Linked DNA regions of Homo sapiens: region 1 is linked to region 2. The links come from fine-mapping of genetic effects on gene expression. A gene starts in region 2. The other region holds a variant in brackets. All regions are shown on one strand. Distances are between the middles of the regions.

Region 1 (2,912 bases), 390 kb after region 2:
TAAAAAATTACCTCAGATCTGGTTCTGGTCAAGATGGAGTAAGCCCTCTCCACTCCTCACTGAAGACAACTAAATACCCTTGTCAGAATGCATGGAGCAGCTATCTTAAGACTCTGAGAAGTAAATTGTAACAGGCAGACTGGGGAAGGAAGTCAGAACTCAAAATACCACTGAACCAATGGTGAGTTTTCCAGGCTTTTTTTTCCTTCAGTAACTCCTGACCTGGATTTAATGGCAGCCTGAGCTGCATACAGAAATGCCAAGCTTCACATTGGATGACATTTTTATAGCCAACTAAAAATGGAAGCATGGACCAAACCTTACTTGCAATCTCACAAATAGATGCAGTCTAGTAGAAAGTTTTAATTTTCAGTGTGAATATACACAATGCAATATCACTAGGATCAACATTGGTATCTTCTGAGCCTGAAGGAGATTGTGTGCTATGCCAATCTGTCTCACAGATATAACTTCCAAGAATCATGCAGATGTTGTCTGCAAATCTGAGCTTGATTCTTGTAAAAAATCTTCCCCAATAATATTGTATTAACAAAAAATAACTTTTTAAAAATTTTAACTGCTATTAGTAGCAATGTGTGGCCTCTTTCCATGCTTACAGGTGATCAAATTCTTTAGAAATATTTGCTCCTAAAAGTGAAGTAGGCAATCTAGAAGTGGATGTAGATGCAAGACTTCTCTACTCTGATAAAGACCACTTCGTTTTCTCAACCAGAAAAAATATATATATGTGTAGCACTATTTCTGCCTTCCACAACTAGTGTTCTTTGGAAACTGCTGCCCGCTTAACTTTCCTCCTCTGGCTATGGGGTTTGGAGGGTCTATCGTAGAGAAAAAGCATTATTTATTTCAATTTTTATCTCCTTTAAAAACATTTTCCTAGACTTTGCATAAGCTTATAAAAAGCGTTACGTTGTTTTATATTTCTCTATTTTTAGTTGAAATTAATAAAAATAAACTTGGTTTATTTTTTTAATTTTATTGAGTTAAGTGATTTGTGTCATTAGTAACTATAGATCTTAATTTCCTTTAAATTCACATGCTCCATCTAGTGCCCTACTTGAGAATAGGACCTATTATCAATTTTTGCTGAAGAATTCCTCGTTTAATGTGAAAATTACAGATCTCCAACTAAAAGCTACTTGGATCGAGTATTCCAAAGCTCAGAGGAATGGAGACATAGATAAATGAATGGATAAACAGCAAAAAACATTCTACTAAATCAAAAGTATGTGGTAAGGCACTGTAGTTTTAATGGCTCAGAAGACGTTTTCAAATTCCAGTAAAGTTTATATTGCTTTTCTTAGATTTCCTACTTGTTTTTATGA[G/C]TTTGTAAGTATGTTGGCTGCCAAGGCTGGCTTCTCAGACAAACAGAGTTTGCGAGTTGGAGCTTAGAGGGAAAGTCTTGGCTTGGACTGGTTCCTGGAGTTTGCTTTTGGTGTGGCAGTGGAGCGGGAGACTGTGGAGAGCAGGACGGGCCTTAGGTTTCAGGGATCAGGTAAAGGGGAAACTGGTGCCTGAATCCATGGATCAAGTAGGGTGGGAATGAGGGCAAGTCTGTACCATCAAGTCCAAGGAAATGAGTGCAGCGTAAGAATAGAATCTGAAGAACGGGAAAGACAGAGCCAGAGGTAGAGGCTGGGAGTTCCCCTAAGACAACAGTGGGCATAGATGAGGTAGAGGATGGGGGTCTTTGTTCAAATCTTTGGCCCAGCCAATGAGTGGGAAAGGAGCTTTAGAGGACACCAAACTGGTTTAAACACTAGAAGAATTATTCTCATGAAATAAACTCCTAAAGTGTTGCAGCTTTCACTCTAGTTTAATCTCTGTATCTGCATTATGGTTAAAACCATTTCTGTGTCATTGTTCTCTAATATCTCATCACTGGGCCTGCTAGCTTCTTTGTTTGAGCTGCTAGTCCTATGAACTATATTGACAAACATATTTTGCCCAAAAGTGACTCATTAATCAATTAGCCTCTTTCTGTCTGCCAGTTATGCCTATGGAAGTGGAGGCTTCCATGTAGGTAGGTACAAACAGAGCTGCAAGAACTTCACGTAGGTGAGACAGGATACGCTCTTCCTTTCACTCCCCAACTATGATGAAGAACAAGTAATAGAAAAAGGTGCTCTAAATCATAACTCAAACATGAGAAGGAAACAAATTCTTCTAGCTTATCAATTCAGCCTAATAATAATAACAACAAGCAATATACTCCTAAGAAGTTAATCTCTGCACTGAGAAATGCCTGCTGGCTTCTTAGAGAGTCACCCTGTGTCAGCACCATTGTGAAGGTCACCTCTGCCTCTGCTCCTCCACACCCAGGATAAGAACCCTCTCCTCCGTCCAAGAGTGGAACTGCAAAAAGTGGAGAATGACTATCACTGTTACCAGATTCCAGATGGAAAAGGAAGTAAAATTTGTTGCGGATAGAGGCAAAAAAAAAAATAGAGAGAGGGAATAAGGAAAAAGGTGCAGGCTCAAAGATGTCAGTCCTCAAGAATCTAGGACAAAAGCCTCCATGGCCATAGAGAGAACTCAGGGATCACTCCCTTATCACTACATTCAATGGATTCCATACAAGAAAGAAAACATTACTCAAAACTGAGAATAGAGTACTGTTACTACACCAAGGTCAGTGATGTTGAATATTTCTTCTAAATCTTAATTTCCATTCAATATACCCTTTGATAACAGAGCCAATGAAAGAGGGACTTTTATTTTACCGTAACTATATAATAATGGACCTCAAACGAGAAAAACAATAGCAGACCTTTGAGGAATGACATTATTCTACTGAGAGTCAAATATGGACAGAGATAGCAGCTGGATACCTTTAACTACATGAGCTGTATCTTGACCCTGAACTTAAGGCTATGTCTTTCAAACAATAC
Region 2 (2,912 bases):
TCGAAATTTGTATGGCTAGCAAGTTATATCTAGCTAGTAGTGATGTCTTAACTAATTTTCCAAAAATAAGTAAAAGAATTCCGGGCAAGGGCAAGGACTGAGGGAAGGGGGTCGGGAAGCCCTGGGATGGGCTGGGCCATCTTCGTTATTTGCGGGGAAGGAGTTGGTGCGTGTGCACCGGCCGGTCAAAGAATGGTAGTGTAGACAAGCCTGTCAGAATCGCCCAGTTATCTCCACACCCGTGTAGACACGAACGGCGCTTCCTCACCTCTTCCGACCACTGCGGGAGGAGGGTGCCGCAAGCCAGGCGCACCCCAGTGGCGCGCATCCTCCCTTCCCGGCGGCCCCTGGCAGCCACGGGGCCCGGGGCCCAGAGCCAGAACCAGGTGCGGTAGAGCGGTCCGCAGACTCGGGCGCCCGGTCTGGGGGTGGTCTGCTGTGGGGGCTGGGTCAGACTGCACACCGGGCTAGGGAGAGGGAGACCGGTCGTTGCCTCGGAGTGTCTTACCAGCTGGCGGCCCTCTTCAGCAGACCATCCGAAGGGCACACACCGAGAGCCAGCCCGGCTAGCTGCTCGCGCGGAGCTGGGGGCTCCGAGTCGGGAACGCAGCGTCGCCGTGGAGACTGCACGGCGCGTGGAGGAAGCTCGGGCAGCAGCCGAGGGTGGGGGCTGGGGGAATTGGGCGACGGCGGGGGAGGTGGCGGGGGCGGGGGCGGGGGCAGGGGCAGCCCGGGGAACCACGGAGAGGCAGGGTGGAGGCGGGCCCAGGCCGTAGGGCGGTGGAGGGCGCGGGACGGAGCGGGCGCGGCGAGGAGGGCCCGGGGCGGGGCTGGGAGGCGGGTCCGGGGGGGCGGGGCGGGGCGGGCGGCCGAGCTGAGGGACAGCCCCGCGGTTGTGGGTGTCCCGCGGCGCCGGAAACTGGGCGCACACACCCTCGGATTGACGTGCGCACGCGCACCGGTTACCTTCAGGAGCGCCGAAGAAGGAAAGAAGGTTGGAATGTCGGTGTCCATACCTGATTCTAAGCGAGGGAGAGGGAAGGGGGCGGGGTGGCCTCAGAGTTTTAAACTTGGGGAGTAAAAAGAAGTCTTGAGTTGGGAGAGATGGGTGTCCCTGGTAGTGGATGAACAAGTGTCCCCTGCAGGACTTAGTCCCCCAACCTGAGGTCGCCCCAAGAAGATTATGGGTCTCCGGGGGGAGTCCCTGGACGCCAGTTTTCCCAGAAGTCAGATTCAAGTGATTAGAACCAGAGACCCGGCTCTCCCCCAGCTAGAGCAGCCCAGGTTCCCTCTAGCGCCAGAGCTGCTGCTCTGCCACGCCGGCCAATGGGAGGTATTAGTGTTTAAGTAACTGCTTGGGTCACAGTAGGGGGTGGGGAGCTTTTCTGTTACAGAATTCTAAAGGTCCCTCAAGCTTGGCTTCTAGGAAGGAATTGGTTATTTTTCTCCACTTGGGATGCCGGAAGTAACTAGAATCAATTTGTTGCTAGGCAACGTGTTTTGAAGGACGCGTGTTTGTTGGACTCAAATCTGGATTCGACTTTCACATGGTAGACACATAATATCAGGTGTACTCCCTATTTAATCTCTGGAGTTGCTACCCGCTGAGGATATGTACCTTGGTAGATGGTTGTGAAGCTAAAATGACATAAAAATGTATAAAGCTCTGACATGTGGAAGATGCTTAATAAATAACAAATTTTATTATTATTATAATAAAAATAGAACCAGCTGGACCATTTCCGGAACCAAGAGAATACAGAGACGTGGCCATTTTTTAATTCTCTTAGTCATCTGTTCACATTCATTCTTTAAATCTCCTGTGAGCCCTTGATGATAGGTAGGAGGCAAAGGAAAAATGCCAGAATGGAAGTTTTTGAAAAGAACTCAATGGAGTCATTGACAAATACATCCCTAGTTTGATAAGGACATAGCAGGCCACTGCCTCCTCTATTACAGGAACACCCTTACATAGAAAATGTCTTGTTTGATTGAGGACTTTTCATTTAAACAAGGCCAAGGGTATGTCTTGATCAACACATTTGAAAACATTAGTTTTGTTGAATTTGCTTAGTACTGATGAATGGATAATGGCTGACTGGTTATTCCCATTGATCCACTACAAGGAAGTGTAAGAAAACCTCAAATTTGATTAAACTTTCTTTCTCTACCTATTCTTCCCCCTGACAGAAAAGCTCAAGTTCATTTGTAGGATGCAGTGTTTAGTTTACTTACTGCTCCTGAAGGGAGCAAAAATGGATTAATGGGCTGGGCACGGTGGCTCACACTTGTAATCCCAGCACTTTTTTTTTTGAGACGGAGTCTCCCTCTGTCCCCCAGGCTGGAGTGCAGTGGCGCGATCACGGCTCACTGCAAGTTCCGCCTCCCGGGTTCACGCCATTGTCCTGCCTCAGCCTCCCGAGTAGCTGGAACTACAGGCGCCCGCCACCATGCCTGGCTAATTTTTTTGTATTTTTAGTAGAGACGAGGTTTCACCGTGTTAGCCAGGATGGTTTCGATCTCCTGACCTCGTGATCCGCCCGCCTCGGACTCCCAAAGTGCTGGGATTACAGGCGTGAGCCACCGCACCTGGCAATCCCAGCACTTTGGGAGGCCGAGGTGTGCGGATCGCTTGAGCTCAGGTGTTTCAGACCAGCTTGGGCAACATGGCGAAACGCTGTCTCCACAAAAAAATATAAAAAATTAACTGGGCATAGTGGCACGGGTGCGGTGGGGTAAGGGGGGGTCGAAGCTGTAGTGAGCCTTGATTGTGCCACTGCATTCTAGCCTGGGCGACAAAGTGAGACCCTGTATTAAAAAAAAAAAAAGATTCATGACCTTGGAGAATAAAAGTATGTTCTCCACATCGAGGAGTGGTTAGAGTGATCTGGCTTCCACCTTGGGCCTCAAGG

Direction of the effects. Alleles are on the strand shown, and positions count from the first base shown. SD is a standard deviation of normalised expression in the study named.
With allele G in place of C in region 1, the expression in tibial artery of the gene that starts at base 1,318 in region 2 is lower (moderate effect, 0.41 SD a copy in GTEx).

What was found. PIP is the estimated chance that this variant, and not a neighbour inherited with it, causes the effect.
Region 1: its variant is fine-mapped to the expression of ERICH2 in tibial artery (GTEx, PIP above 0.99). The same link has a PIP of 0.9 or more in aorta and coronary artery.

What each region holds. Positions count from the first base shown.
Region 1 is chr2:170,376,160-170,379,071 of GRCh38, reverse strand. All of the region lies in intron 9 of MYO3B (myosin IIIB), which reads right to left. Among named protein-coding and RNA genes, the nearest start is that of MYO3B-AS1, 27 kb to the right of the region's middle. The variant G/C (reference allele first, on the strand shown) is at 1,347.
Region 2 is chr2:170,768,784-170,771,695 of GRCh38, reverse strand. It overlaps ERICH2 (glutamate rich 2), which reads right to left and starts at 1,318. Exons shown (of 10, transcript NM_001290030.2): 1 at 509-1,318. The coding sequence starts at 1,014. ERICH2-DT (ERICH2 divergent transcript) reads left to right here and starts at 930. Exons shown (of 6, transcript NR_110185.1): 1 at 930-994. RefSeq lists silencers at 221-360, 681-740.